7 separate regions of the Homo sapiens genome follow, and all the other regions are linked to region 1. Evidence: fine-mapped expression QTL. A gene starts in region 1. Each other region holds a variant in brackets. All regions are shown on one strand. Distances are from middle to middle.

The links.
Region 2: its variant is fine-mapped to the expression of GSTT2B in transverse colon (GTEx, PIP 0.99).
Region 3: its variant is fine-mapped to the expression of GSTT2B in esophagus muscle (GTEx, PIP above 0.99).
Region 4: its variant is fine-mapped to the expression of GSTT2B in prostate (GTEx, PIP above 0.99).
Region 5: its variant is fine-mapped to the expression of GSTT2B in subcutaneous fat (GTEx, PIP above 0.99).
Region 6: its variant is fine-mapped to the expression of GSTT2B in lung (TOPMed, PIP above 0.99). The same link has a PIP of 0.9 or more in hippocampus and ovary.
Region 7: its variant is fine-mapped to the expression of GSTT2B in subcutaneous fat (GTEx, PIP 0.98).

What each region holds. Positions count from the first base shown.
Region 1 is chr22:23,958,768-23,962,982 of GRCh38, reverse strand. GSTT2B (glutathione S-transferase theta 2B) reads left to right here and starts at 1,788. Exons shown (of 5, transcript NM_001080843.4): 1 at 1,788-1,963; 2 at 2,602-2,689. The coding sequence starts at 1,852. RefSeq lists an enhancer at 2,902-3,567.
Region 2 is chr22:23,380,875-23,385,089 of GRCh38, reverse strand. It overlaps the pseudogene CES5AP1. Among named protein-coding and RNA genes, the nearest start is that of LINC01659, 51 kb to the left of the region's middle. The variant C/T (reference allele first, on the strand shown) is at 2,146.
Region 3 is chr22:23,928,051-23,932,265 of GRCh38, reverse strand. It overlaps the pseudogene KLHL5P1. Among named protein-coding and RNA genes, the nearest start is that of GSTT2B, 31 kb to the left of the region's middle. The variant C/G (reference allele first, on the strand shown) is at 1,799.
Region 4 is chr22:24,943,697-24,947,911 of GRCh38, reverse strand. It overlaps LHFPL7 (LHFPL tetraspan subfamily member 7), which reads left to right and starts at 1,218. Exons shown (of 4, transcript NM_001388199.1): 1 at 1,218-1,340. The variant C/G (reference allele first, on the strand shown) is at 2,239.
Region 5 is chr22:23,993,208-23,997,422 of GRCh38, reverse strand. It overlaps a transcript of GSTT4 not described here. Among named protein-coding and RNA genes, the nearest start is that of GSTT4, 10 kb to the left of the region's middle. The variant C/T (reference allele first, on the strand shown) is at 1,677.
Region 6 is chr22:24,006,571-24,010,785 of GRCh38, reverse strand. It overlaps LOC105372959 (a long non-coding RNA gene), which reads right to left. Exons shown (of 2, transcript XR_001755457.1): 2 at 1,919-4,215. Among named protein-coding and RNA genes, the nearest start is that of CABIN1, 2.6 kb to the left of the region's middle. The variant C/T (reference allele first, on the strand shown) is at 1,740.
Region 7 is chr22:23,998,989-24,003,203 of GRCh38, reverse strand. GSTT4 (glutathione S-transferase theta 4) reads left to right here. Exons shown (of 5, transcript NM_001358664.2): 3 at 1,879-2,029; 4 at 2,953-3,129. Among named protein-coding and RNA genes, the nearest start is that of GSTT4, 4.4 kb to the left of the region's middle. The variant G/A (reference allele first, on the strand shown) is at 1,973.

The DNA.
Region 1 (4,215 bases):
GCACTGGGTAAGTGCTCTGTACATATTAATTAGGAGTACTCATTTCAAAAATATGTGTGCCTTTGATAAATAAAAACAGTATGTGCATGTTGTGTTGGTGTGTGCTTCCTTGATTATTACTGAAGTTAAACATGTTTTCATCCATGTATTGACCATTTCTCTTTGTCCTTCAATGAAACCTCTGCTGATTTCCTTCGCTCATTTTTTTCCTGTGTCTTCGTCTGATGAGTTTCTCTTCTTTTTGTTTGTTCGTTTGTTTGTTTTGAGACAGTCTCGCTCAGTGGCCCGGCTGGAGTGCAGTGGTATGATCTCAGCTCACTGAAACCTCTGCCTCCAAGGTTCAAGTGATTCTCCTGTCTCAGCCTCCCGAGTGTGCCACCGCACCCAGCTAATTTTTGTATTTTTAGTAGAGACGGGGCTTCACCGTGTTGCCCAGGCTGGTCTCAAACTCCTGACCTCAACTGATCCGCCCATCTCTGCCTCCCAAAGTACAGGGATTACAGGCGTGAACCACCACACCCTACCTGTCTGATGGGTTTCTAAGAACATCTTAAAGGACATTACTTCCTTCTGACGTATCTTTTACCGAGATCCTTCCCAGTTTTTTGCTTAAGGTTAATCCATTTTTTCCTCCACAAAGTAACCTTGTATATGTATTGGTTTTTTCTTTGTTGAGTTCTCCCACTGTTCTGAGGCTTAGAAAGTCCTTTCATACCCAGACATCAGAGAAACAGATCCCGTGAGAGTAACTGGGATTGCAGGTGTGGGCCAGCATGCCCTGTTATCACTCCCTTTCTCTGAGTCAGCTTTTCTCTCTCAGTCTCGTCTACTCCTCGAACTCAGGAAATGTCACTACAGGTGGCCCCAGCTCCCGTTTACCTCCCCATAGGGAGCTCCTCTCTCCAGTTCCAGTTTCAAAACTCCCAAGGAAGCATTCTGGTTCACTCGCTTGGGCCACTGGCCAGAGGGATGGGATACTCTGAAAGATTCAGCTAGAGTCCCGGGCCCAGCCCTGGACCATCACTGTGCCCCCTGGTGAGATGCCAGGGCTGGGATTCAGGGAGAAGAAAGGAGGTTCCCGGACAGTCATTCCTGCCTCCCGCGGCTGCGGGCTCCCTGCCCCCATCCTGTGCACGAAGTGGGAGCTCCCGCTGTCTGGCAGCTCCCGCTGTCTGGCAGCAGCTGCTCTGCAGGGGACAGTCTGGACGGCAGAAAGTTCATCCTTAACCCCAGCCTTCCAGTCAAGGTTCCCACCAGTTTGGGACACCTGCAAGTGTCACATCCCACTGGGTGAAACTCTAAGATCCCTTTTAGGGGATCCCATTCGCTCCCTCCCTTCCGCCACCATGCAGCGCCGAGAAACAGAGCTCTGAACGAACCCTCAGATGTCCGTGCGCTGGGGCCTTTCCAGGACGGCGGCGCCCAGTCGTTTCTGGGTCAGGGCGACGCCTGGAACTGGGCAGGGTCCCTGGCACCGGGATCCCGAAAAGCAGACCTGCTTCTCCCTGTCCAGCCGGTTCCCCTTCCCCTTGCAGTCGGCCCCCTGCATCCGCGTCCTCCCTGCCAGTCGAGGGTCCCCAGCTCCAACTCCACCCTCCCAGCTGTGCGTTCATAGCGACCGCCCTCCCTGTAGGGACGCACGGATCTGGTGGTGGAGTCTTGGCCGGCAGGACTGGACAGGAACCGAAGGGGCGAGGCGGGTCCGGGGGTGGTGCGCTCCAATTGGGTGCTGTCCCCAGGGGGTGGGGCCTGATCCCCTATTTCCCGGCGCGCCGGGATCCTGCCACAGCTGCTGCCCACACCGCGCTCAGCGCCTTCACTGCCATCCCCGCTGTCCTTGCCGCCCCCGCCATGGGCCTAGAGCTGTTTCTTGACCTGGTGTCCCAGCCCAGCCGCGCCGTCTACATCTTCGCCAAGAAGAATGGCATCCCCTTAGAGCTGCGCACCGTGGATTTGGTCAAAGGTGGGCCCAGCCCGTTTCCCCGCGTGTCCACAAACCCAGTGCACCCCCAGGCCCCCGCCCTGCTCTGCCCTGAGCGTCTCGCCGCCCGCACAGCCCCCTCACCTCCTCCTGCAGCGTCTGCCACCAGAGAATGCTGTGGACTGAGTGGCCTTGGAGGGATCACAGCCTCTCTGAACCTTAGCTTGCCTTCTGAAAAGGAGGATAATGTTACCTTCTGCTCTGTAGGGATGGAAAGAAAATACTGAATGGAGTTGACAGAGTTCTTGCGTGGAATGCACGCATATAAATTCACAAAGCCCAGAAGACCTTGGGAAGAAGGACATGCTGTTGTGAGAATTAAGAGATGGGAAGAGATGAGCCACCCCAGTTTGCCTCCCCTCCCCTGGCCCACCAGAGTCCGGCTAGAAAACTTCTCTTTATCCACCTGCTGCACCTGGCCCCACCCACCAAAGCCCCCCAGCTGCCCCGGAATGTGGCAGGGCAGGGAGGCCCAGCCAGGGAGTGAGGCTGATCCAGGCCTCTAGTCCCAGACCTTGCTGTTTCTCAGGGCTGTGGGGCTCCGCTTGGGGAGGAGGAGGGAGGGTGTAGAGGTGCAGCGTTTTTATTCTGAAGACCTTTTCTGACTTCTTCCTCTTCAGGGCAGCACAAGAGCAAGGAGTTCTTGCAGATCAACAGCCTGGGGAAACTGCCGACGCTCAAGGATGGTGATTTCATCTTGACCGAAAGGTGCCCTCCTTCCCTCACCCCTCACCGCATCCGGAGCCCATGTGACCTTGGCTCTCCCCACTGGCCCCGGGCCCCAGTGGCCCTCCCATACCCCATGGGGCAGCGAGGGAGGGGAAAGGCGAGGGATCTGGCCGGGCGCGGTGGCTCACGCCTGTCATCCCGGCACTTCGGGAGGCCAAGGCGGGCGGATCACGAGGTCAGGAGACCGAGACCATCCTGGCTAACACCGTGAAACACCGTCTCTACTAAAAATGGAAAAAAAATTAACCGGGCGTGGTGGCGGGCGTCTGTAGTCCCAGCTACTCTGGAGGCTGAGGCAGGAGAATGGTGTGAACCCAGGAAGCGGAGCTTGCAGTGTGCTGAGATCGCGCCACTGCACTCCAGCCTGGGCGACAGAGCTAGACTCCGTCTCAAAAAGGCCGGGCGCGGTGGTTTACGCCTGTAATCCCAGCACTTTGGGAGGCCGAGGTGGGCGGATCACGAGGTCAGGAGATCGAGACCATCCTGGGTAACACGGTGAAACCCTGTCTCTACTAAAAATACAAAACATTAGCAGGGCGTGGTGGCGGCCGCCTGTAGTCCCAGCTACTGGGGAGGCTGAGGCAGGAGAATGGCGTGAACCCAGGAGGCGGAGCTTGCAATGAGCAGAGATAGCACCACTGCACTCCAGCCTGGGTGACAGAGGGAGCCCACTCCAGCCTGGGCGACAGAGGGAGACTCCGTCTCAAAAAAAAAGGAAAGAAAGAAAGGAGAGGTATCTGGGGAGAAGGTACAGCTTGGGGTGTGACCGGGATGAGCAGGGGCTGACAGAACATGTCCCCCCACCTCTCATCTTCCAGCCTTTTCTGAGCCGCAGGGCCTCTCCACTCCCAGACTGAAGGGTATTAGAAGAGAAGACAAGGGAACATTTTTCCACTGTTGCGCATTTGTTCAACAAATGCTAGCTGAAAAGAGCCTCTAGTGACTTGTTGCAGACTACCCAATCTACCCAGGCCGGGCCTAGAGGCCAATGCCATGGCCCAAGGGCACAGCTCATGGTGAGGTCCAGCTGCTGGGCAGGAAAAGGACAAGAGGTCAGGTGGCTGCAGAAGTGATGGCTGGGGGCCTGTCAGACGGGGGCCAAAGACATTCCTCCCCTCGTGATCCCTGACCCAAGCGCGTGGACATGCAAGGGACTCCACGGAGCATCCACTGTGTGCCAGCCCCATGCAGGGTTCCAGGGGTCCAGGGAGCCTATTCTGAGCTGCACCGCCTCGGACAAGTCACTTGACCATTCTGACCTTGAGTTTTCTCTTGTGCTAAAAGGCTAACAGGAGTGTCTACCTCACAGGGCGGCTGCTGGCATATCACAGAGATGAGGTTCTCAAAATGCAAAGCAGAAGGTCCAGCCAAGAGTCGGTGCCCAAGGCAACAAAGACAGGAGGAGACTCGTAGGAGGAGGGGGTGGTGTTGGGGAGCTGGAGATGGAGGGCGAGGCTGGAGGGCAGTCCTTCAAATGCAGAGAAGCCCCCGGGCCCCACTGGCAG
Region 2 (4,215 bases), 580 kb after region 1:
CCTCCGGGCCTGGAGACAGAGCCCTTTTGGAGGCCCTCAGGCCCGACAAGCCTGTTCCTTGGAGCCAGGCTGTGGGCTGGGTGTATTCTGGTGGGATGGGGGATCTGGGGCATGGGGTGGGAGTGGGGCTGGGAGTAGGTTGAGGTTGGTGCCTCAGGCTCTGTGGAATGGGACTGGGATGGCTGCAGACCCTGGGCTTTGGGGTCTGAGCCCAGCCCTGTCCCCAGGCAGGCTGCCCCCTGCAGCCCTGGATTCCCATGTTGGTTGGAGTTGCGATGAGAGGTTCTGGGGCCTCCTTTGCTTCTGTCCAGGACACACAGCTGAGAAGTCACGGTCTGCTGCCTGACTGTGGGGGTTTCAAGCCCCACTGGAGCATCCAGGCAGGCCCTTGGGCGGCAGGGCCTCGTGGGGGCAGGAGGGGACCCTGGGAAGTCGGGAACCAGGCCAGGGAGGGAGAGAAGGCAGGAGCACAGTTGTGGGTGTAGGCACCCACCCCGTCCCGAACGATGTTCCTCCCGGCCCACCCCACTCCAGTCCTCTGGGCCGGCTGCCAGAGGGTGCTGCTTGAGGCCACTTGCTTCCTCAGAAGAAGGTCTCACCTTCAGAGCCAGCCTTTGAGCTCCTGGTGACCTCAGCCTGTTGCCCTTGACCCTGAGTTTGCCTAGATCAAGTGGGAGGCCACTCTTTGGGCCTCAGTTCTCCCGTTCCCAGGGAGCAGGTCCTCTGTCCCCTGACAGCACCCCTCCTCGCTGTGCAGCCACCACTGCCAGGTTTCTGACTAGGCAGTGTTCCCCAGGGGGTGGCTCTGGGCCCTCAGGCAAACAGCCACGCTGGGAGGGGCGGTGGTTTGCACGTGAATAGTGTCACTCGGGTCCTTTGCTTGAAGTTGGCTCTGCTGAGTGCAGCCTGCAGACATTTTCAGGAAACTCAGTCCACAGGCTGGAGGCTTCTGCTTCCCCACAACCCAAACGGCCTCCAGCCAGCCAGAGAGCCATGAGAATCCAGCCACTAGCAACTGCCAGCAGGAAACCCACTACCAGCTGCTCACAGATGGACAGCCCATCCCGGTAGCTGGCCCCACCTCCCCGCCCCTCTGCTGACCAACCCAGCAGCTCCTTGGGTGGGTGTGGCCACCCTGCTGCCCCCACCTGCTCCCGGACCCTGTGCCAGGCGGTGCCTTGCCTCAGCGGGGCCTCGCCTCCCCCAGAGCCGCTCTGCTGCCTGACCTTGTGATATCTTGGGTCCTCTGGGCACTGGCGCAATTGGGTGGGGTCAGCTTTGGCCAGCAAGTGGGGGGCAGGTGGGTAAATCCTCCCTCTCTGCCATCTCCACTTCCTTCCTCCTACCCGGCTTCCCTGCCTTTTCCCCACTCTGGCTCCAGGGTTGCACTTCTCAGAAAGCTGTCGCTGCCCGGCTGCGCACAGGCCTGATTTTCTTGGGAGTCTGGGCTAAGATTCTGACTGGCCCTCCCACTTACCACCCACACCACCACGCAGCTAGCCAGTAACAGGGCCAGGAGTGATCAGGAGGGGGCCCACCTGACCACCCGCCCGGCGCCTCCAGCTGGCCAACTCTGCCCGCTCAGGGCCATGAGCTGGAGGTGCCAGGAGCCTCCCGGGAGGCAGTGTGAGGCATTCTTCTTAGTAAGTCCCGCATCGATGATAAAGGGCAGTATCAGCCCCTCTCTGATGCGCAGTGAGCGGCTCACCATACAGGGGAGGCGTTTAATTTATCTCGGGAACTGGGCGCAAGTTATAAAAATGGTAATTTCTTGGAGATTCAATTACGTGTTTTCATTGTTACCCTCGGTAATCAAGGAAACAATTTTTTATAAAAGGCTGTTGGATGATACTGATCTCAGGAGAGGATCTGGGCCGGGTGGGGGCTTTGGGAATGAAGAGGAGGGCAGTGTCTGCTGGGGGCAGGCAGGGCAAGTGGAGCTGAGCCGTCCAGCCCACCAGCTGTTCCAGCCCTCCAATTCCTCCATTCCTCTCTGGCCTCAGTCTTCCCTTATGCCGATGGGGCCATCTCTGGTAGGGAGGGTCTGGCAGGAGCTGATGAAGTGAGGCATGGCTCCTGGGCCGTGAGGGTGGCTGTGAGGGTAGCTGCGTCCCTGCCCCTCCCTGCCTGGTGCCCGAGCAGTCT[C/T]GTCCATCTCCTGAGGCCTCTGCAGGGCATAGAGAGGGGTTCCTCATGGAGTGCGGACCTGATTTTTTTCCCCAAGTGATGTCTTGGCTCTAAATAACATCTCCAGGATTAATGGTGCCAGCCCCCAACAGCACCAGGTGATTGAAAAAATGGTTTTATGGCCCCGTGGGTGAAATTCAACTTGCATCTGAGGTGTATTTCCAAGATGGGATTTTCCTCCCTGGGAGAGGCGGCACATTCCACACTAATTATAATGGCAGCTCCTCGACATTCATCACCCATAGTGGGGGGGACACCTGTCTGGGGCACAGGGGCAGGGTGTCCCTGGGGTAACCTCCAGGTCTCCTAATCTCAGCAGACTCTGGGGGGCTGGTTCTAGGAGATGCGCCCTCACGCAGTGCAGGGCCAGGGGAGGGGGAGGCGGGAGCCCCCAGGAAATGAACAAACTCTAGCTGGGCTGCGCCAGGGAGGAGGCTGGAAGGAGGCCCCAGGCTGAGGGTAGGACCCGGCTAGTGCTTGCCCAGGGACCCACAGGCCCCTTGCTGAGCAGACTCCAGCGAGGGGCCTGGCCCATCTTGTTGCAAGAGGCTGGAGTCCTGGGCTGAGCTGGGCAGTTGACCTTGGATCTGACTGTCTCCCCTGAAATTCCTTTTACCCCAACTCAGGCTCCTGCAGTCCCGCACAGCGCCCAGCCAGGATGGGCAGGAGGAAGCCCTTCCTCCGACGGGCCCTCACCGCACCCTGCCTGAGGGGCCTTGAGCCCCAGGGCTCTTGTCTCAGCACTTGGCCGTGGAGATTCGGGAACTATGGGAGTTTGGGGGATCTCGGTGGCTGAGGGCTGTGCTCATGAAGGACTCCTTGAGTTTGGAAGATGAGGCTCACCTTCTGCACAGCCAATAGGTCATTGTCATGGGAACACTGACCACCAGCACCAACCTCCATCCCCCGCCGGGGGCACGTGCCTTTATCACCCATTTCCTAGGTGAGTACAGGGGCTCAAAAAGGGGCAGGGTTCCTGAGGTCACACAGCAGGTGAGCAACAGAGCCAGTGAGGGCCTGGGGGTGTCCTGCCAGGGGCTGAGGTGTGCCCACATGCAAGAATCCAGGGGTCCGTGGGCCAGGGCCCTGCCAAGAGTTGGGGGCTGAGGGAGGGAAGGGGGCATTGCCAACCCTGCAGCCCCTGCCGTGGGGGGTAGAAGAGAGATGCCCCTCTGGGGGCCCGAGGGCAGGGTGGGCCCATGCCGTTCCCTCCCACCTGCCACAGGTGAACCTGACAGGAGTGGGGATGGAGCCTGGCATCCCAAGGGAACCTCCTGGAGTAATCACTCCACATGCTTGCAGTAAATATTGGGCCCTTCTTCCCCTCCCAGTAAATGAACTTATTTACTTTTAACTAAGATTAAATGTTCTCTGTGAGTTCAAGATACTGACTGCCCTGTCAGGCTCAGTCCACGCTCTGCTCTTCCTGCCTCTGGGGGCCACCCCCAGGCAGGGAGGGACCAGGCAGCCCTGGGGAAGCAGAGAAGTTGTTTCTCCAGGAAACTCCAGGAGGAGAATCCATTTACATCATCACCACTGTCACCATGAGCACGGCCATAACCACCATCATGGCCAGCTCCACCAGCACCCCATCACCACCAGCACCGGCATCATCACCACCACCACCACCACCACCACCATCACTACCAGCACCATCACCTCCACCACAATCAACACCATCACTGTAACCACAACTTCCATCACCACCACCATTACCCTCACCATCCCCACCATCACCATCACCATCAGTACCACCACATAACCTCTATTTTGACCACCACCATCACCACCACCACCACCATCACCATGATCACCAGCATCACCACCACCACCATCACCATGACTACCATCATCACCACCACAGCCTCCATCACCTCCACCATCACCACCCCCATCACCGCTTCCACACCACCACCGCCAGTAACACCACCTCCATCACTACCTCCATCGCCACCACCATCACCATCACTATCACCATCACTACCTCCATCACCATCACCACACCTCCGTCACTATGGTCGCTGTGACTGA
Region 3 (4,215 bases), 31 kb after region 1:
AAATGCATCTTTAGGTACTTTTGTCGTTGTGTAGACATCACAGAGTGTACTTACACAGACCTAGATGATATAGCCTACTACACACCTAGGCTATATTGTGTAGCCCACCTGCTCCTAGGCTACAAACCCATACAGCATGTTAGTATACTGAATAATGTACATGGTGTAACACAATGATAAGTATTTTCTTTTACTTATATCTTGCATTGTAGGATTTATCACAAAATGTTACTGCCCAGTGCATTTTTGCAAACAATAACAATTCACTGAGGGTATTAACATTCACATATGTAATTAGAGTTTACAAATGCACCAAACTTTGGGTAACAAACACTTTAAACTTGTTTTTTTAGACATTCAGTAAGCCCTTTCTCCCCCCTCCCCAAACCGTTTGATTACAAAGAAGCACAATGGGTTAACTGTGGCAAAACATAAGAAATAAGGCAGGGGAGGCAGGTGCAGCCTTGACAACATAAGAATATCCAAACAATGTTGTCAATATCAAAAGAAAAAATCAAAACATCTTTTATAATATAAAATAAATCCATATAATTAAGTACTAATTAGGTGAAATAACATTATAGGGTATATAACGTTTATTTTCTCTATTTAAATTTGCATATCTTAAATTTATTTGTTTTTATTTTATTTTTTCCTGAGATGGAGTCTCACTCTGTCACCCAGGCTAGAGTGTAGTGGCACAATCTCAGCTCACTGCAACCTCTGCCTCCTGGGTTCAAGAAATTCTCCTGCCTCAGCCTCCTGAATAGCTGGGATTACAGGCGTGCACTACCATGCCCAGCTAATTTTTACATTTTTAGTAGAGATGGGGTTTCATCATGTTGGCCAGGCTGGTCTCCAACTCCTGACCTCATGATCCATCTGCCTTGGCCTCCCAAAGTGCTGGGATTACAGGCATGAGCCACCTCGCCAAGCTGCATATCTTAAATTTAATGTGAAACATCATGTTTCAACTTCGACTTAAGAATATCATGACATACAGTTTTTGGTGAGTCTAGATGTAATGGAATGAATATTTAAATAGACTTCAAAGATTTTATCAAGGTTGTATTTGGTTATCATTGCTTTAAGTCTTTAATGCTTTTCTTTCTTTATTGGACTAAGCCAATTTTAGAAACAAAATCCACAACCAACACACATACAATGCCGATGTTTCTGAAAAAACTAAATAGTATTATGTTTAGTATATCATTAAAATAGTGATTGTGGTTAAACAAACAAGCAAACAAACAAATTACTGCAACTCATAGATGATAAACTTATAGAAAGCAACATTTTAGAAGTTCCATCTGGTGTGTTTGCACTGTAAGAAAATAAATCTGGATATGAGTATGTAGGGTCCAGCCCTACAGGGTCAGTGAGTTTTCTCCTCATGTGTGGAGATGAGAGAGTGTAGAAATAAAGACACAAGACAAAGAGATAAGAGAAAAGACAGCTGGGCCCAGGGGACCACTACCACCAAGATGCAGAAACCGGTAGTGGCCCCAAATGCCAGGCTGTGTTGATATTTATTGGATACAAGACAAAGGGGTAGGGTAAGGAGTGTGAGCCATCTCCAATAATAGGTAAGGTCACGTGGGTCATGTGTCCACTGGACAGGGGGTCCTTCCCTCCCTGGCAGCCGAGGCAGAGAGAGAGAGAGGAGAAAGAGAGAGAGAGCTTACACCATTATTTCTGCTATCAGAGACTTTTAGTACTTTCACTAATTTGCTACTGCTATCCAAAAGGCAGAGCCAGGTGTACAGGATGGAACATGAAGGTGGACTAGGAGCATGAC[C/G]ACTGAAGCACAGCATCACAGGGAGACAGTTAGGCCTCCGGATAACTGCAGGCGGGCCTGACTGATGTCAGGCCCTCCACAAGAGGTGGAGGAGTAGAGTCTTCTCTAAAATCCCCTGGGGAAAGGGAGACTCCCTTTCCCGGTCTGCTAAGTAGCAGGTGTTTTTCCTTGACACTGACGCTACCGCTAGACCAGGGTCTGCTTGGCAACGGGCATCTTCCCAGATGCTGGCGCTACTGCTGGACAAAGGAGCCCTCTGGTGGCCCTGTCCGGGCATAACAGAAAGCTCGCACTCGTCTTCTGGTCACTTCTCACTATGTTCCCTCAGCTCCTATCTCTGTATGGCCTGGTTTTTCCTAGGTTATGATTGTAGAGCAAGAATTATTATAATATTGGAATAAAGAATAATTGCTGCAAACTAATGATTAATGATATATATATAATCATATCTAAGATCTATATCTAGTATAACTATTCTTATTTTATATATTTTATTATACTGGAACAGCTCGTGCCCTCGGTTTCTTGCCTCGGCACCTGGGTGGCTTGCCACCCGCATGAGTAAGATGTGCTTGACTGAATAAATGAGATCCCCAGCTAGCACTGGGCTATGTTCCAGAGCAGTGCATCTGTCCTAATATGTTACATCAGGAATGTTTGTTCACAATCCACCAGCTGCAGGTTTTCATTTACTAAGAATTGAAAGCAATTAATCCTGGTCCATCCACTCCTTCCTCCGTTGTTTTACTATCTTTGCTTTGAGATCAGGTACTTTGTGCCCAGGATTGTGGCAATGCATGTTTACTAAAAATGCATCCATTGATGGTAGAATAATTGTACTAAATTAATAAAGGAAGAGAGTGTCTTCATGTAGAAAACAGAGCACTAAATTATAATTTTACAGTCACAGCACAAGCTCCAGCTCTTCCTAGGCACAGTGGAGCAACCCGGGTCCACTCTTTGTCTGGGATCATGAGCCTCCACTGTATTCAGGTATGCCTGTCCATCATACCTCCCAACAGCATAAAACTTATCAACAAGTAAACAGACCTCCACTGCATCTCTGCTGATGCTCATTGATTCTACTGTAGTCCACATGTCTGTTTTGGGATCAGATGTCTCCACACAATCTGAGAGTCTGGAAGTCAAGTTGGATGTGAGAGCATCATGTTCCCCTATAGCATACAGCAGTCCGCTCCGGGTCGTTACTCCTATGCCACCTCTCCTTTTTGACATCCGTGCACACAGTGTCCATGTTGGGGTGATCAGGCCTAACACCAGGCCGTGGGGGCTACAAAGTCTGGCGGGGTCAGAGGAATGTGAAAAGATAAGTTAAAAGTGCATAAAGTGGGTCCGGGGGGCCGGCACTAGATTGAAGGCTGCAAAGGCCCCGAGCTCTGGGAGCCCACACTATTTATTGGTGATCAAACAAAGAAGCAGGTGGTGAGGATGTGAGGGTAAACAGGTGAGGGCATGAGAACGTGGGGATAGAAAGCTAGTGGTGCATTAAGCGTAGCTGTGACAGCTTAGCACTTCCTTTGATGCATGTAGAATATGCTCTGCTACTTGAGATAATGGAGGACATGTTTACGAGTAAGAAGCAAGGAACCAACAAGTCTGTGCACATTCCAGAGGCTATGAGGAGTTTTATGCCCTGAGCCCTGGGTTCCATCCAAGCCACACGGGGTTTTATGCCCTGGGCTTAGATTTGTGTTGCGGCAGGGCAGCCTTCCACCCTATGGCACAGAGCTTGGTGTACCAAAGGCCATGAGGGGTTTTAGGCCGTGGACCCCGGACATCTTTCAAGACTCTTTTACATTATGACAGACAAGCCAGTCCTGCCTCAGCTCTTCTACCAACAGTCCACTCACTAGTATGAGGATCAAAACATTCTACTGATTTGAGACAAGAACTTGCATCACCACCACCAACTGCATTAAGTTTTCCACTTAGCACTGCCACACCAACTGTGCTCCTAGGAGTAGACACAGTGGCAACAAAATTCCACTGGCGAGCCTGAGGGTCCCAAATTTCCGCTGTGTTCAGATGGCCCCAGCCCTCATGCCCTCCTACGGCATACATGGGACCTTCCAGTACAGCCACACCAAGGCCATGTCTATGTGTGGACATAGGTGGCACCACACTCCCTGTTTTTGTTTTGGGGTTGTAGCACTCTACAGTATTCAAAGTCTTCAGTCCATCTCTTCCTCCAACCACATACGGTTTGTCATCTAGCACTGCGACACCAAACTGTAGCCTCCTCTCATTCATATTTGCTACTGGAGTTCATGTATTTGTACAGAGGTCATACTTTTCAATGCTTGTTGCTCCTTTTGTTGAATCCATTCTCCCAACTGCAAATAATGTACCAACAGTTGATTTCCTAGATTTTGCCTGAGGACTTTGTAACGTGGGTC
Region 4 (4,215 bases), 980 kb before region 1:
ACTTTCCAAACCTTAACCCCCAACCCTAGGACACAGGATGTAGGTCTGGCCAATCAGAGCATCCCATTTGCCTGGCCACAGTGATTGATTCGTGGTAGGCATGGGACCCAAGTTTGTCCATTGAGTGTTAATCACAGCACTTGCTGCAATAGTGTGCAAAGAGAAGCTTTCTTTTCTCTGGGGTTGCTGAGTCTCGGAATGTCAGCCTGGAGCCACCAAAGGGCAATATTGTTAGAGGGAATCCACCTAGAGAGTGAAGCCAACTGAGCAGAAAACAGAACTGAGAGCTGGAGAGAGAGAGGGGTTCTGAAGACATTGCTTATTTACCTGGATCCCACTATGCCTGAAGCCCATCCCAGAGAATTTTCAGTTACGTGAACCAATACATTTCTCATGTCTATTTGAGTGGTGCTTCCATCACTTATAGCAAAAGAATACCAGGCCAGGCGCGGTGGCTCACGCTTGTAATCCCACCACTTTGGGAGGCCGAGGTGGGCAGATCACAAGGTCAGGAGATCGAGATCATCTTGGCCAACAAGGTGAAACCCTGTCTCTACTAAAAAAAAAAAAAAAAAAAAAAATACAAAAAATTAGCTGGGCATGGTGGCAGGAGCCTGTAGTCACAGCTACTCAGGAGGCTGAGGCAGGAGAATGGCGTGAACCCAGGAGACAGAGCTTGCAGTGAGCCGAGATCGCACCACTGCACTCCAGCCTGGGCGACACAGTGAGACTCTGTCTCAAAAAAAAAAAAAAAAGAATACCAGCACCTACTCTGTGCCAAGTTTTGTGGTAAGGATAAAGATATTTAAGACACAGTGCCTGACTTTGAGACGTCCACAGCTCACAGGGAAGATCCTATGAGAAATACACAGAAATATGCATATCAGTTGCCTGGGCTGGAATTATGAGGGCAGAAAGGTAGAGAACACAGTGGCAGCCACTTCTAAACTCCCAATCCCATTTCTCCTCCTGAGATTCTATCTGTGGTTTCCTACACCTGGCGTTTAATCATAGATCAGTTAATCCCTATTGGTGCCTTGCCCTACCCAGAAAACACTATACTCTCCCCTTGTCCCCACCTGGAGATGGCTTTCCCCTCTTTGCTCAGCCCACCCAGCAGCCTGGAGTGAAAGCTTTTATTTAAGGAAGTGGGAAGGAAAAACCACACACACACACACAGACACACCCTCAGACCAGTTCATCAAGCATGCCCTTGCATTGTTCTACAAGCTAAATTATTCCTTCAAAGGAGAGGAGAATTGTATAAGGTCACAGACGTGGATCCAAAGCCGGAGCCTGAGCAGAGGTGGCCACGCTGGAGGGTCTTGACCTAAAGTGTGGTGAGTCTGGAGGGACAAGTGACCTGAGGTGAGGAGTGAGGAGGGAAGGAAACTGGGATAGCACAAAGCACGTTCAGGGGCTGTTACAGGCTTCAGGGGGCCCATGAGCCTCTGAAATGACATACAATTGTGTGTGTGTGTGTGTGTGGGTGGGTGGGTGGGTGCATGTGCGCTCATGTGTGCATGCTTGCTTATGTGAGAGTGCACGTGGAAACATCCATAGTTTTGTTTTCTGGGGTTTTGTTTTTTTGTTTTTCTTTTTTTGAGACAGTCTTGCTCTGTCGCCCAGGCTGGAGTGCAGTGGTGTGATCTCGGCTCACTGCAACCTCCGCCTTCCGGGTTCAAGTGATTCTCTTGCCTCAGCCTCCCGAATAGCTGGGATTACAGGCACCCGCCACCATGCCCAGCTAAGTTTTGTATTTTTAGTAGAGACAGGGTTTTGCCATATTGGCCAGGCTGGTCTCGAACTCCTGACCTCACGTGATCCTCCCGCCTTGGCCTTGCAAAGTGCTGGGATTATAGGTGTGAGCCACCACACCTGGCCAACATCCATAGTTTTAAATCATATCTTCAAAGGAATGCATCAAAGGGTTAAGTCCCACAGACCTTCCTTTTGTAGATGGGGAACCTGAGGCTCAGAGCCGTTACATAATTTGTCCTAGGTGGCACAGCCAATCTGTGACAGATGCTGGAATAGATCCAGAAATTGGACTTACCTGGCTGCATAGCCGGGAGAATGTGATAAGAGATAAAAGTCCTTCCCAGACCCAGTTTGCCCATCTGTGCATCTCAGCCTGGACATGGCCTGCACCCCCCAGGCTGGACTGGGTGCCCTTCCTCTGTGCTTGTCCCCAGTGTCACCCCAGGCTTTTTCATGGTGTGGAGCTGTGTCTGTACT[C/G]AAGCCTGTATATATCGATTGATGGGTTGGGGAAGATACACATCTCAAGCTTTGCTTACGCAACCTCACACTCAGACACCTCCGGCTGCCCTAGTAAACATGTTCCTTCTGCAGGTTCTTCGTCCCAGGTCAAAAGCCCTAGAGGCATCCTTGCCTGTTCACCTTCCCTCACACCCCAGGCCTATTCTATTAGCAAATCTGATCAGCTTGACCTTTGCCCTTCAAAATCAATCCAGAATCTGACCACTCTTTGTCCTCCTCCCCTAACCCCACCTCCACGTCCATCCACATCCACCTTTGTCTCTTGTCTGACTGACGAGTCATCTTCTGAAGACTTCTCCCTCTGCTTCCCTTCTGCCTGTTCTCCACCCAGGAGCCAGAGTGGTCTTTTGAAAACCTAGGATGGTTCATGTCATACCCCTGCTAAAGACCAGCCATAGACTCCCTACCACACTCACAAGTGAAAAGCCAGGCTAGGCACGGTGGCTCATGCCTATAATCCCCAAACTTTGGGAGACTAAAGCAGGAGGATCTCTTGAAGCCAGGAGTTCAAGACCAGCCTAGGCGGCCAGGCGCGGTGGCTCACACCTGTAATCCCAGCACTTTGGGAGGCCAAGGCGGGCAGATCACAAGGTCAAGAGATCGACACCAGCCTAGCCAACGTGGTGAAATCCCGTCTCTACTAAAAATACAAAAATTAGCTGGGCGTGGTGGTGCGCATCTGTAGTCCCAGCTACTCAGGAGGCTGAGGCAGGAGAATTGCTTGAACCCGAGAGGCAGAGGTTGGGGTGAGCCGAGATCGCGCCATTGTACTCCAGCCTGGCGACACAGCAAGACTCGGTCTCAAAAACAAAAACAAAACAAAACAAAAAAAGACCAGTCTGGGCAACATAGAGAGACCTCACCTCATCTCTACCAAAATAAATAAATAAATAAATAAATAAATAAATAAATAGCCAGGCATGTTGGTGCATGCCTGTAGCCCCAGCTACTTGGGAGGCTGAGGTGGGAGGATTGCTTGAGCCCCAGGAGGTTGAGACTGCAGTGAGCTGTGATTGTGCCACTGCACTCCAGCCTGGGCAACAGAGCAAGACCTTATCTCTGCTACAAGGCGCACCGCTCTTTCCTACCCTCATTACTTCTAGTCACATGGGCCTCTTTGCATCTTCAAATGTGCCAAGGGCACACTCCCCTCAGGGCCTTTGCACCTGCTCCCCACTCTGCTTGGAATATTCCTCTGACACCTCTCCACGTGGCTCCCTCCATCACCTTCTTCAGGCTCAGCTCAAAGGTCACCTTCTCATGGGGCTTTCCATGACTATCCCCCAATTACCCAATCACTTGCTATCTCCCTCCAACGCTTCATTTTTCTCTAGGGCACTTATTGACATCTAACATATTACATATTGACTTGCTTATTTCCTCCCTGTCTCTCTCTCTCCCTCCAGAGTCTAAGTTCCATAAGGAGGGGCTTTTTCTATTTTCCTCACTGCTGAATCCTCCAGGACCTAGAACAGTTCCTGGAACATTGTAGACACCCAATAAATATTTGTTGAATGAGTGAGCACATGGACATATTGCTATATTTTGTTGGTCTGTCTTGCCTGCAAAACTCTAAGCTCTTTGAAGGTGGGGACTACGTTCTGTTCACCACTGTATCCTGGGGGTAGGGGGTTAAGAGATCACATTGAGCTGGGCACATTAAAGTTGAATGAATGATTGATCAACCCCTCCAATTTACAGAGAAAGACATAGAAGCCAGAAGAAGAAAGAGACTTGGCTTGACATATCAAGTCCCTAGCAGCTACCTCTAAACTCCCAGTCCCATTTCTCCTCCTGAGATTCTGCCTTTGTATGGCTTCTCTGGAATCATCCCTGTCCCCTGGGCAGGGCAGGCATGAGAGCTGACCATGCCCTAACCTTGGGCAGCTCTAGTAAGCCGTTGGGTTCGTTGGCCTTTAAATTAAATCCTTAATA
Region 5 (4,215 bases), 34 kb before region 1:
AATGAGACTTTTTTCTAAAAAATATATTTTTTAAAAAAATTAGCTTGGTGTGGTGGTGCAAGCCTGTAGTCTTAGCTAACTGGGTGGCCGAGGTGGGAGGATCACTCGAGTCCAAGAGTTCAAGGTTACACCGAGCTATGATTGCACCACTGCACTCCAGCCTGGGCACATAGAAGAACCTTATCTCAAAAAACAAACAAAAACAAAAATGAAAAAATGAAATGGAAACCAGAAAGAAAGAAAATGGAGACATCACATTGGTCATAGAGAAATTCAAAAGTTTAGAAATACTATGAATAACTATATGTGGACAATTTAGACAACCTAGATGAAATGGGAAAATTTTAGAAACACACAATCTACCAAAACTGACTTAAGAAGAAAGATAAAATTTTAATAGGCCTGTAACAAATAAAGAGATTAAAATATTAATTATTTTTAAAAATTCCACAAAGAAAAGCCCAGGACCAGATGGCTTCCCTGGTGAATTCAACCAAAAGCTTGAAGAACTAACACAAAGCCTTCACAAACTCTTCCAAAAAAATAAAACAGGAAGAAATATTTTTCAACTCATACTATGAGGCCAGAATTACTCTGATACCAAAGACAGAAAAAGACATTACAAGAAAATAAAGTTACAAAGCAATATCCTTATAAATATAGATGTAAAAATCCTCAGCAAAATATTAGCAAATCAAATCCAGCAGCATATTAAAAGGATCATACACCTTGACCAGGTAGGATTTATCCCAGGAGTACAAATGCAGTTCAACATACAAAAATCAATCAGTGTAGCATACCATGTTAATAGAAAGTCACATGATCATCCTAATGCACAGAAGGCATTTGACAAAACCTAACATCCTTTTACGATAAAATTACTCAGCAGATGAAGACGAGAAAGGAACTTCCTCAACTTGACAAAAAGCATCTATGAAAAACCTATAACTAACACCATACTTCATCCATTGTGAAAGATCAAGCGTTTCCCCCCTAAGATCAGGAACAGGACAAGAATGTTCATTCACACTACTTCTACTTATTAGGGCAATTAGGCAAGAAAAAGGAACAAGGTGGAATCTAGATCAGAAAGAAAGAAGTAAAACCATCTCTATTCACAGATGACATTACAGAAATTCTTAACTCACTTAAAAACCATTAGAGCTAATAAACAAGTTCAAGGCTGGGCACGGTGGCTCACACCTGTAATCCCAGCACTTTGGGAGGCCAAGGCGGGCAGATCATGAGGTCAGAAGTTTGAGACCAGCCTGTCCAATATGGTGAAACCCCGTCTCTACTAAAAATACAAAAATTAGCCGGGCGTGGTGGCGCATGCCTGTAGTCCCAGCTACTCAGGAGGCAAAGGCAGGAGAATCACCAGAGCCCAGGAGGTGGAGGTTGCAGTGTGCCAAGATCAAGCCACTGCACTCCAGCCTGGGTGACTGACTGAGACTCCATCTCAATAAAATAAAATAAGTTCAGCAAGGTTGCAGGGTACAAGATTAATACACAAAAATCAATAGTATACATTTGCAATAAAGGATGAAAAACAAAATTAAAACCACACTTCCATTTATAATACCATCAAAAAGAATAAAATAGAATAAATTTAACCAAAGAAAAGCAACATTTCAACACAGCAAACTACAATGTGCTGTTGAAAGAAATTAAAGAAG[C/T]GCCACCAAGCAATCTGACCTGAGAAAACATGCAGGTTCAACAGAATGAGTCCTGCTCTTCAGCAAGCACCCATCTTGTGTTCAAGCTGGGTCTATGAGGCAAGTTTGGCAACATAGACATGGACATGCCACCAAATCTGTAATGTAGAAAAGGCCAAGGGAAGGTGGATCAATCATTGGAAACATTCAACAATCCATGGAAGAAATGTTAAAAATAGAATCTCAGGGTCTGATGAAGTTGGAATATCACTCTTCTATGTATTTCGGTTGGAATCTGTTGAACGATTGGATAAAGTAAAAGTATAGGGAATTATTAGGTAGCATTAAATGTGTAATAAATGTAAAGAGAGGGTGCAAGTGCATACAAGGAAGTGTACGCTACTGGGTTTCTGTTGAATTGTTCATGGAAGACCATCAGCAGTTCAATTCCAAAAGCTTGTCTTAAAATTAGCTGGGTGTGGTGGCGTATGCCTGTAATCCCAGCTACTCAGGAGGCTGAGGCAGGAGAATCGCTTGAATCCGGGAAGCAGAGATTGCAGTGAGCCAAGATCGCACCACTGTACTCCAGCCTGGTGACAGAGCGATACTCTGACTCAAAAAAAAAACAAACAAACAAAAAAAAAACTTGTCTTGAGGGACTACGCCAGCCTTAACAGCTACAAACATCATGGAGGAAGCTGTCTGCCCATTAGAAGCCCAGAGCCCAGAGGGACAGACTAGAGCAAATCCTCTCCCTCATTGGAGCTAGATGGGAACACAAATCTATCTGATAACTAACATGCAATTTTACATCTCTTACCTTGTTTAATCCTCACAACCACCCTGATGAGTAGTAGTATTATGCCCATTTTGTAGATGAAGAAACAAGTTCTTCAAGGGGAAGGGTAGCATATGAATGAGAGGCAGAACCAGAGTCAGGACCTATATCTTGTCTTCTCCTTCCTAAAACTAGAAAAGTACCCACAACCAGGCAATGCGTTTGGTGCAGAAAAAGCAGTAGTGAACAAAATAGGCAAAAATGTCTGCCTTTAGTGCTCACATTGTTGTGGAGAAAGACAAACAATAAGCACAGTAGAGAAGTAAAAATTAGAATGTTTTGCTAAAAAGTCCATAAAATTGAATATTATTCAGCCATAAGAAGGGATGAAGTACCGTTATATGCTACAACATGGATGAACCTTGACACCATTATGCTAAATGAAAGAAGCCAGTCATAAAAGGCCACATATTTCATTATTACATTTGAATGAAATCTCCAGAATAGGCAGCTACTTCCTATCCACAGAGGTAGAAAGTAGATGAATGGTAACCAGGGGCTAGGGGAAGAGGGGAATGGGGAGTGACTCTTTATTGGGTACAGAGTTTCTTTTTGGGTGATGAAAATGATCTAGAATTAGATAACTGTGATGGTGACAAAACTTTGTTAATATACTAAAAACCACTGAATTGGCTTTAAACCAATTGAATTTTAAAGTATACTTTGAAAGGGTGGATATTATGGTATGGGAATTATATCTGATAATGAAAATATGATTACATTGTTCAAAAGCATAGGGAAGAAGCTACAAAAAATATGAAGCATAAATTGTGGCTCTTTTTTATTCTGAAGTGTAAATTTGAACATTATATCTCAAAATATAAAACAAAAACAAAGAAAGCTAAAAGCCCTTCCATTTGGCCATCTTGGAGTAAGACCTACCACAGTCCAGTGCCTTTTACTCAGCCCCACAGCCTAGCCTATTGTTTACATGAAACCCTGTAGCTTCCACCCCTGTTTGACTGTTGGGTGTAAAGTTATGAGTGACCATATTGGGGGAAGGGAGGAAAACTCCCCATAAACGTGTATCCTGGGGGCCTGAGGAGAGACGATGGCCCAGGTATCAGAACATGATATGCCTACTTGTCCCTATCTCCTTGTCCACACATAAGGCTTGGAAGGCAGCCATGTTGTATATCACGTGATCGCCAACCAATGAGCTGATTGGCTTCTTCAACAAGAGCCCAGGTAGAGATTGGTGTCTAGAGGAGCCCATCAGTTTCTAGAGAATCAGGCCTTTGGCAGTGGAAACTCCCCTGGGAGGATGTCACAGGGTCCTCAGGGTCAGACACAGAGAGAAGGAGACATTGGGACAGAGAGAAGAGGCAAGAAAAAAACATACCTTGCAGTCTGTGAGGAACAAGGTGGCCCCTAGGGGCCTCCAGCCCAGGTTCTGAATCAAAGCTCCTCAAAGTTTAAGGTGCATTTGGATCACCTGAGGATCTTATGAAAATAAACTCTGTCTGATTCAGTAGGTCTGGGTTTGGGGGTGGGAGCCTGTTAGTATATTTCTAACAAGCTCCCAGGCAAGGCTGCTACTGCTGCTGATCTAATGACCACAGTTTGAGGCTGGACAGAGTGGCTCACACCTGTAATCCCAACACTTTGGGAGGACAAGGCAGGAGGGTCTCTTGAGGCTAGAACTTTGAGACCAGCCTGGGCAACGCAGCAGGACCTCGTCTCTAAAAAACAAGAGAGAAGAAGAAAAAGGAAACAACAAGA
Region 6 (4,215 bases), 48 kb before region 1:
AATAAATAAATAATAAAAATAAAAATCACCAAAAAATCTCAAAATGTTGTAAGAAAGTTTATGAATTTGTGTTGAGCCGCATTCAAAGCCAAGCAGACCAGCGCGTTGGAGAAACTTGACTTAGAGGGAACCAGGGAGGAGGAGCATCCTCATTCATTATATTACCTGTGCCTCTCTTTCCAAAAAGGATGTGAAGCCCAAAAGGAACAGATACAATAGGATATTGAAACAAAAGGAAAAAAAGGAACAAAACCTAGTAAATGAACAAGAAGAGGGGTCATGGGTGGTGTCAGAATTCCAGAGATGAAAAAAGGCGACAGAGTTGAAGGGGTTCTGTCAAGGGTCTTGGGCTGAAAGATGGTACTCTCTTGGGAGCTAGAATAACAATAAAGCATTGTAGGGAAGAACTTTACACTGTGGTTGAATTCATAGCTGCTTGAGTCTTGCACAGATGATTCAAATAGGAGTGAATGTTGGGGGCTTTTTAACCTCAAAGACAGTAACAGCATGGTGAAAAACTCAGTTCAGTACAATAAAGCTATACTGATAAGCTAGAAGTTCTGAAAATTGTTGAGTCACCAACCTTGACTTTGAGTATTGGGGTAAACAGTATTTGGGGGGTAAACAGAAGCATAAACAGATGGTTTCAAAGCTGCATGGATAACCTTCAGCCTCGGATACAGCTTCCACTCAAGCCTTATCATGAAAGATGCGCTGGAGAGAAACAGTTGAAAATAGGTGGGAAGGGTGGTCCAAGCAGCAAGAAAGTTGTGTGGGGAAGGTCCGGAGGTGAGAAACATGCAGATCATGCTGGAGTGTCATGCAGCACAGTGTTACCGTGAGGCAAAGCTCAGGGCCACAGTGGGGAGAGAGCACTCTGGAGAGTTAGGAAGAGGCCAGTCCAAACAAGCAAGCAGAAAACATATTGTTGCAGTCTTGCCCGTGCACCACAATGTACCAGTCTCTCATTGTGGGGTATCACCCAGAATTCTTTGTCTCACGACCAAGAAAATTAGGGAGTGTGGACACAAAGGGTAAGGTTGAAGCAAAAGTTTAATAAGCAAATGAAGAAAGCTCATTGCAGCTGGCGGGGGGCCCAAGCAGGTTGCCCATTATGAGGCTGGGTCAGGGGGTTTTATGGACTGGGAAAGGAAGGAATGTACTGACTGGTCTTGGAGAAAGCACTACTCAGCTTGGCCCCTGGACCTTGAGGGACCAATCAGGAGCTGAAGTGATAGCCTGGCCCAGGACCAATCAGAGGCTCACATTCTAAAGCACGTCCAAGAAAGGAAAGTGCCCACTGGAACCCACTGTAGCCCACCGTGTACATGTCCACAAAAGGAGAAGAGACTATTTCCTGGAAGCCCACTGGTTATACAAAGGACAAAGGCATTTCTATGCTGGGTCTTGTTCCCTTATCAAAGTAGCTGTGGGCATGCCTTAGGCACAAAGATCAAAGGTGTTTCTGTGTTGGGCATTGTTCCTTTATCTGAGTGAGCCAGAGGTTTGTGCAAGTTTCCTTATCTGTGCCTGAAGCCTGATTTTTCAGGCTGTTCCTCTGTTTAAAGGAGTTTTACCAAGGACCCACCTTAATTACCTAACTTTTCTCTCTCAATATCACTCTCACTACACTGAGGATGGCAGATTTAACATGGGGAATCTATATCAAAGACTGTGGCCTTATGGTCTTGGTGAGAGTTAGGCCTGAATCCCATCCATGGTGACCGCAACGATTCATT[C/T]ATATCCAATGCAAGCATTCCCTGAGGCACTCTGGGAAGCAGGACACCATGAAACACACTGGCAGAGGAATGAGTGCAAAATACTTGGGTCAGGGGTCCAGGGGAAGGAACTCCAAGGTCTAGCTATCAATGAAAGTCCTTAGCAGTGGTTAGGTACAAACACACCAGGCACAGGCATATTCCATTAGAAATTGATTTTATTAACTACATAGACTGCACAGACTGAAAATCTGAATTTGGTGTTTCACTGGTACGCTAAAGATAAGGATCATCAAAGGTTTATGCAGGGAAACAGTGACCACCACGGTGTCCAAGGGTCATTAGAGGAAAATTCTGCATGGAACATGTGGAAAGCTACAGAAATGGAGACTCCCTATAGGCTCCCCCACACCACCCCTACATACTTTGACATTCAACAGACTGATAGGATATTTAGATAAGAGGGTGGGGACCTCATTCATTCAGTTTCAATGCAGTTTCGGCGCTGACATTGCATTTCCAGGTTTGGCATTCTGGGACATGGGTTTTACAAGGTGCCTAGCTACAGAGAATTATCAGCAAGAGTTAACAGAGAAGATGAAGTTCTCTGCCCAGGAATGCCCAGAGAAAGTCCCTGAAGACAAATCTGCCCTGTGCTCTGGCCCACTACAGCAGACTATGGAGAGGAAACAGCTCAGAACTAGTGGAGAAGGGCTGAGCAACTCCTGGAGGTCCAGAATTCTGGGGAGGGCAGGTGAGAGGAGCAGCAATGGGGCTTGAGCTCTTCCTGGACCTGACACACTATCCACTTTTGCAAGACAGAATGACATCCCTTTTGAGCTGTGGATGGTGGAGTTGGCTTGGGGTGAGCCAGGTGGCTGGGCTGGGCCCCATGGAGTGGGTGCCAAGGACCAGGCCCTACACTGAGCCTTCTCTCCTTTCTGCCCACCAAGGGAGCACCTGAAGCCTGAGTTCCTGAAGGTGAACCCCCTGGGGAAGGTGCCTGCCCTCAGAGATGGCGACTTCCTACTAGCAAAGAGGTAATGGTGACCTGGTGCCCACCCAGGGTCAGAGCCAGGATCTGCCTGGGTTCTGGGGCTCAGAGTTGTAGGGGGAGGCAGAGGCGAGAGGGGAGATCTTTCCTTGGCTTGGAGATCTTTCCAAATCACTGAGGCCCCTTCCTCATTTCAGCCTGTGTAGCTCCGATGCAGAGGCTGGACCCAGGGGCACCTTTGGGCTAAAGCTGGAGGCTGGAACCTGGCTAGAGTCTGAGCCAGCTGGAGCTGCCCAGGTGGGGAAAGGACGTAGGTCACCCGGATAAACCTGGACAACCTGAAGCCAGCGGGCAAGGCCCAGGCTTGAGGCTGGCTCCTCCCCAAATGTCCCCAGCTCATCCTTTCAGAGTCCTAGGAGCTGGGCAGACCCAGGGGAGACTCCACATTCAATCCCAGCTCACCACTTCCTCAATCCATGCCCTTGGGGAAATCACAGAACTTTGTGTGCCAGGTTTCTCCTCTGTAAAACGGAGTGGGAGGAATAATGTATCCACCTCCCAGGGCTTACCTGAGGATAGAAAATGGGCACCTAGTGTTCTGGGGCACTAGGAAGGGAACTTGGAGACCTTTTGGGCAGGGCCCACACGGCAGGCACTCTGAGTGGGGACCCTGATGCCAGGGAGTGGGGCCTGGGCACAGAGGGCAGGATGGTATGGTAACTGGGAGGGGAGGTGGAAACATGGGCCCAGGGAGGATCAGAGTTGGAAATGGAGAAACAGAGTGGTTTGGTCGTGGGGAGATACTGCCTGGAGGGAGTTGCAGTATAGGGGAGGTCCTCCCCTGAAGGTGAAGGTGGGGAGAAAACCTGGTCAAATCACCCTGAGTATGAGCAATGAAGCCACCTGGCCCTGACAGGCTGGAGAAAAGATCTCTGACACCCCCTGCCCACAGCATGGTCATCGTTTTATACCTGAGTCGAAAGTACCAGATACGGGGACACTGGTACCCACCTGAGCTGCAAGCCCGCACCTGCGTGGATGAGTACTTGGCGTGGAAGCATGTCACCATCCAGCTGCCTGCCACCAATGTCTACCTGTGCAAGGTGAGCTTCCTAGGCCCTGTCATGCAGGCTGGGGCAGGGGCCTGGACCCCCAGAGATGGAAGGCACCAGTTGGTACATATTACATATTAGCTTCACTTCCACTGTCCTCAGCAGACATAACTAATCTATCACAGTACTCCTTCCCCTAAGCCTGAATGAATCCTTAGAAACCTTCTGAACACAGAGCCCCAGAGGACATCACTAATGAGTGGCAGCCGGGAAGGGATGGAGAGGAGGCCCAAGAGGCTTCCAAGAGTCTGGGTTAAGTTGCTCCTCTCCTCCCAGCCCAGTCTCTCCTGCCCCACTTCTCCGGACAGCCTGCAGATGCTGCACAGCTGGAGCGGCTGTTGGGGAGGCTGATGCCAGCCCTGCAGCACCTGGATTGGGGGGTGCTGGTGGC
Region 7 (4,215 bases), 40 kb before region 1:
ATCAATAAATGTTTAGGAACATACTTTTCAGAGATAAGAGTTCTTAAAACAAACAAAAAAAAAGCAACAGGCTGGGTGTGGTGGCTCATGCCTATAATCCCAGCACTTCCAGAGGCTGACACGGGAGGATCGCTTGAGGCCAGGAAGTTCAGAACTGCAGTGAACTCTGATTGCGCCACTGCACTCCAGCCTGGGCTAGGATAGAGCGTAGCATCACTACGATACCATTAAGATACCTCATAAAATTAACAATAATTCCTGGATTTCATCTAATATGTGGCTCCTGTTCAAAACTCTATGATTATCTCCTAAACATTTTCTTGGCAGTTTGTTTGGATCAGGATCCAAAGAAGTTTTTTTTTTTTTTTTTTTTGAGACGGAGTCTCGCTCTGTTGCCCAGGCTGGAGTGCAGTGGCGCTATCTTGGCTCACTGCAAGCTCCGCCTCCCGGGTTCACGCCATTCTCCTGCCTCAGCCTCCTGAGTAGCTGGGACTACAGGTGCCCGCCACCATGCCTGGCTAATTTTTTTGTATTTTTAGTAGAGACGGGGTTTCACTGTGTTAACCAGGATGGTCTCGATCTCCTGACCCCATGATCCCCCCGCCTCGGCCTCCCAGAGTGCTGGGATTACAGGCGTGAGCCACCGTGCCCAGCCAAGAAGTTCTGAGTCTTGCAGCCAGTTGCTGTCTCTCCTGCCACTTTTTAACCGATAGCTCTCTCCATGCCCTGACCTTTTTACCTTGGCATGGTTGCTGCTGGTGATGATAAAGGAGCCCTTGTTCTGCGGAGGTTCCCACACCAGCCATCAATCAGCAAGGCCTAGGACATCCCCTCCGAAGCATGTCTCCCCTCCATCCCCTTCCCTCTGTCCCCATGGCCTCCAACATTCCCAGACACCACAACCTTCCCGATAGTTGCTGGCCCCCTCATTGTCCATTCTGCCCCCTCGGGCTCACCCTCCATCCAGCACCAGAGAGATGGATCCTTTCATGCCCTGGCTTATATAATGCCTAATCTTAAGCATTAAGTCCATAACCTCCCTGCACCTCCAGGGGCTACCCTACGTGGACTCCACAGTGTCTCTGGCTGCCTCATCACTCCCCAATCACCCCCACCCTTCTTCCAGTTGCAACCCCCTACTCTCTTTTCTTCAGATTTACCTTGCTCCCTTTACCCTCGTATTTCAGCATGTGTTTTTCTTTGTTGGTTTTTTGAGACAGAGTCTTGCTCTGTGGCCCAGGCTGGAGTACAGTGGCACAATCTTGGCTCACTACAACCTCTGCCTCCCAGGTTCAAGTGACTCCCGTGCCTCAGCTTCCCAAGTAGCTGGGATTACAGGTGTGTGCCACCACAACTAGCTAATTTTTGTATTTTCATTTTAGTAGAGACAGGGTTTCACCATGTTGGCCAGGCTGGTCTCCAACTCCTGGCCTCAAGGGATCTGCCCCCATTGGCCTCCCAAAGTGCCGGGATTACAGGTGTGAGCCATCGTGCCCCCCCGTTTTTGTTTTTGAAAAAGGATCTTGATCTTTCACCCAAGCTGGAGTGCAGTGGTGTGATCTTGGCTCACAGTAGCCCCAAATTCCTGGGATCAAGTGATCCTCCCACCTCAGCATCCCAATTCAACACGTGTTGTTCCCCCTGCTGGCCTACTCTTTGTTATACCACCAGCCCCCAACTCCTACTCACCCCGCAGGGCTCCTTCCCAGCCCTTACTGACTGTCAGACAGACAGCTCTGGTGAAGGTCTTTCTCGGGGCCGTTTGGGCTCCTCTTTGCTCTGGAAGCCCCAGCAGTTGGGCCCAGGCCACACCGGGGTGGTTGATGTAGTGGCACTCAGGAAGGCAAGGGCAGTGCCCCTGACCGGCCCCTTCTGCAGCGCGGCCATCCTTTACTACCTGTGCCGCAAGTACAGCGCACCATCGCACTGGTGCCCGCCAGACCCGCACGCACGTGCCCGTGTGGATGAGTTC[G/A]TGGCTTGGCAACACACGGCCTTTCAGCTGCCCATGAAGAAGATAGTCTGGCTCAAGGTGAGCAGGGCCACTTCTGGGGCTTGGGGACACGGGCACAGGGAAGTCAGGAAGGCTGGAGGCCAGTTCTGGCCCTGCTGACTGCCGGCGACCTCAAGCAAGTCTCCCTCCCTCTCTGGGCCTCATTTCCTCAGCTCCTTCTCCTGCCCGCCTTACAGAGCCGTCAGGAGTGTGGACTGAAACAATGGGCATGAAAGAGTCTTATTAGGGCGAGGGGAAGGGCATACGGGAGGGGCTGATGTGACTCACCCAGGACAGCATTCGAGGCATTTCATTCTGAACTAGAGAATCTCAGCGTCAAAAGGCCCACAGAAGGCCGGGTACGGTGGCTCACAACTGTAATCCCAGTACTTTGGGAGGCCGAGGCGGGCAGATCACTTGAGGTCAGGAGTTCAAGACCTACCTTGCCAACATTGTGAAACACCATCTCTACTAAAAATACAAAATTATTAGCTGGGTGTGGTGATGGGCACCTGTAATCCCAGCTACTCAGGACGCTGAGGCAGGACAATTGCTTGAACCCAGGAGTTGGAGTTGGCAGTGAGCCAAGATTGTGCCACTGCACTCCAGCCTGGGCGACAGAGTGAGACTCCATCTCAAAAAACAAAAACAAAAAAGAGTATGGCCTATAGAAAATTAGAAGATGACAAATAACCAGTACATGTGTCTCTACTTTGAATTCTATGCCTGTGACAGACATCACTAATCAATCACAGGACTTATGCCTGCTGAGCTCCCCAAATCCTTGTGAACACATGGTTCCCAGCAACTTCCACCAATCAGAACTGCTAAAAGAGGTGAAACTGCTTTATATCCTGGGAAGTGTTCAATATCTATCCAGCAGACAAGAGTACAGAGACCTGGCAGGGCAGGTGGCCCTGGAGTGCAGCCTCCTCTTCCCTCCTCTTCCCAACCCTGGCCAGTTGCTGATCCCAAAGATAACAGGGGAGGAAGTTTCAGCTGAGAAGATGGAGCATGCAGTGGAAGAGGTGAAGAACAGCCTGCAGCTCTTTGAGGAGTATTTTCTGCAGGATAAGATGTTCATCACCGGGAACCAAATCTCACTGGCTGACCTGGTGGCCGTGGTGGAGATGATGCAGGTGTGGAGTGGATTGGAGGAGGGTTAGACCCTGGGCAGAGGTAGGACTCCTCTGTGACCAATGGGGCCATCACTTGAGGATAGGCTGGTGAGGCGGGAAAGGCAGGCAGAGCTGCCATGGGGGCTGCGGGAACCAGGCCTGGGGGCCTGGACTCAATCGGGGCAACAGGAAGCACAGAATGTTATGAATCAGGAAGGATCACAGTTCTCCACACTTGACAAAGATTCTTCGGTGTGGGAGGACCCGGAGGGTGAGCCTGGGATAGAGAAGAACACTGCATTTCCTGCTCAATCCACCGGCATCCCAGATACCTCCTCCTCTTGCTGGACTCTCCAGGAAATGTTCACTGGCTTCCTGGGTGTCCTTCTGGCCCTGCCTGTTTCCCAGAGCTCCAGACAGACAGCTCTGGAGGACAGCTCTCGTGGCTGGGTCTGAGGGGCATCCACTGTGCATTTGGAGGCACACCTGAGTGTGGGGCATTTATGTGGCCTCTACATGCAGGGGAGGGTGACCAGTTCTGCTTGTCAAGACACTGGCCAGGGTCTCAACTGGCCATCCTGCACACCAGCTAGGGCACTGCACACTGACCAAAGAGACTAATTTGCATATCAGCCAGAGATATGCCCGAGAGGAGGGACCTGGGGTCCTGGTGGATTGACCAGAAAATGCAGTATTCTTTTCCTTATCCCAGAGATCTCTGGCTGATATGAAAATTAGTCTCCTTGGTCTGTTTGCAGGGCAGACCAGCACCAGGAAAAATCATTCTGGCCTGCCCCAAGGGTTCAGCCATATGCTTCGTCCCCACCCCTTACATTTCACCCACACACACCCATTCTTGGGCTTCCCAAAGATCTTGGGTGCAAACCAAACTCTTAGTAAGCCAGCGAAACTGCAGGGTAGACTGCCCGCCAGGTCTCCCATCCTAGCCCCTGAGCTTGATCACAGTGGGAGGCTAAACATGGAGGAAAAAACCTGAGTTCTCTCCCTCATCCACATATACACACCTGGGATAAGGGGTCTCCCTGGAAGAAGGCAGGATTCATGCGAGGTCGCAGGCTGGAGAAGTGGGAAGTGCCTGGGCCAGGA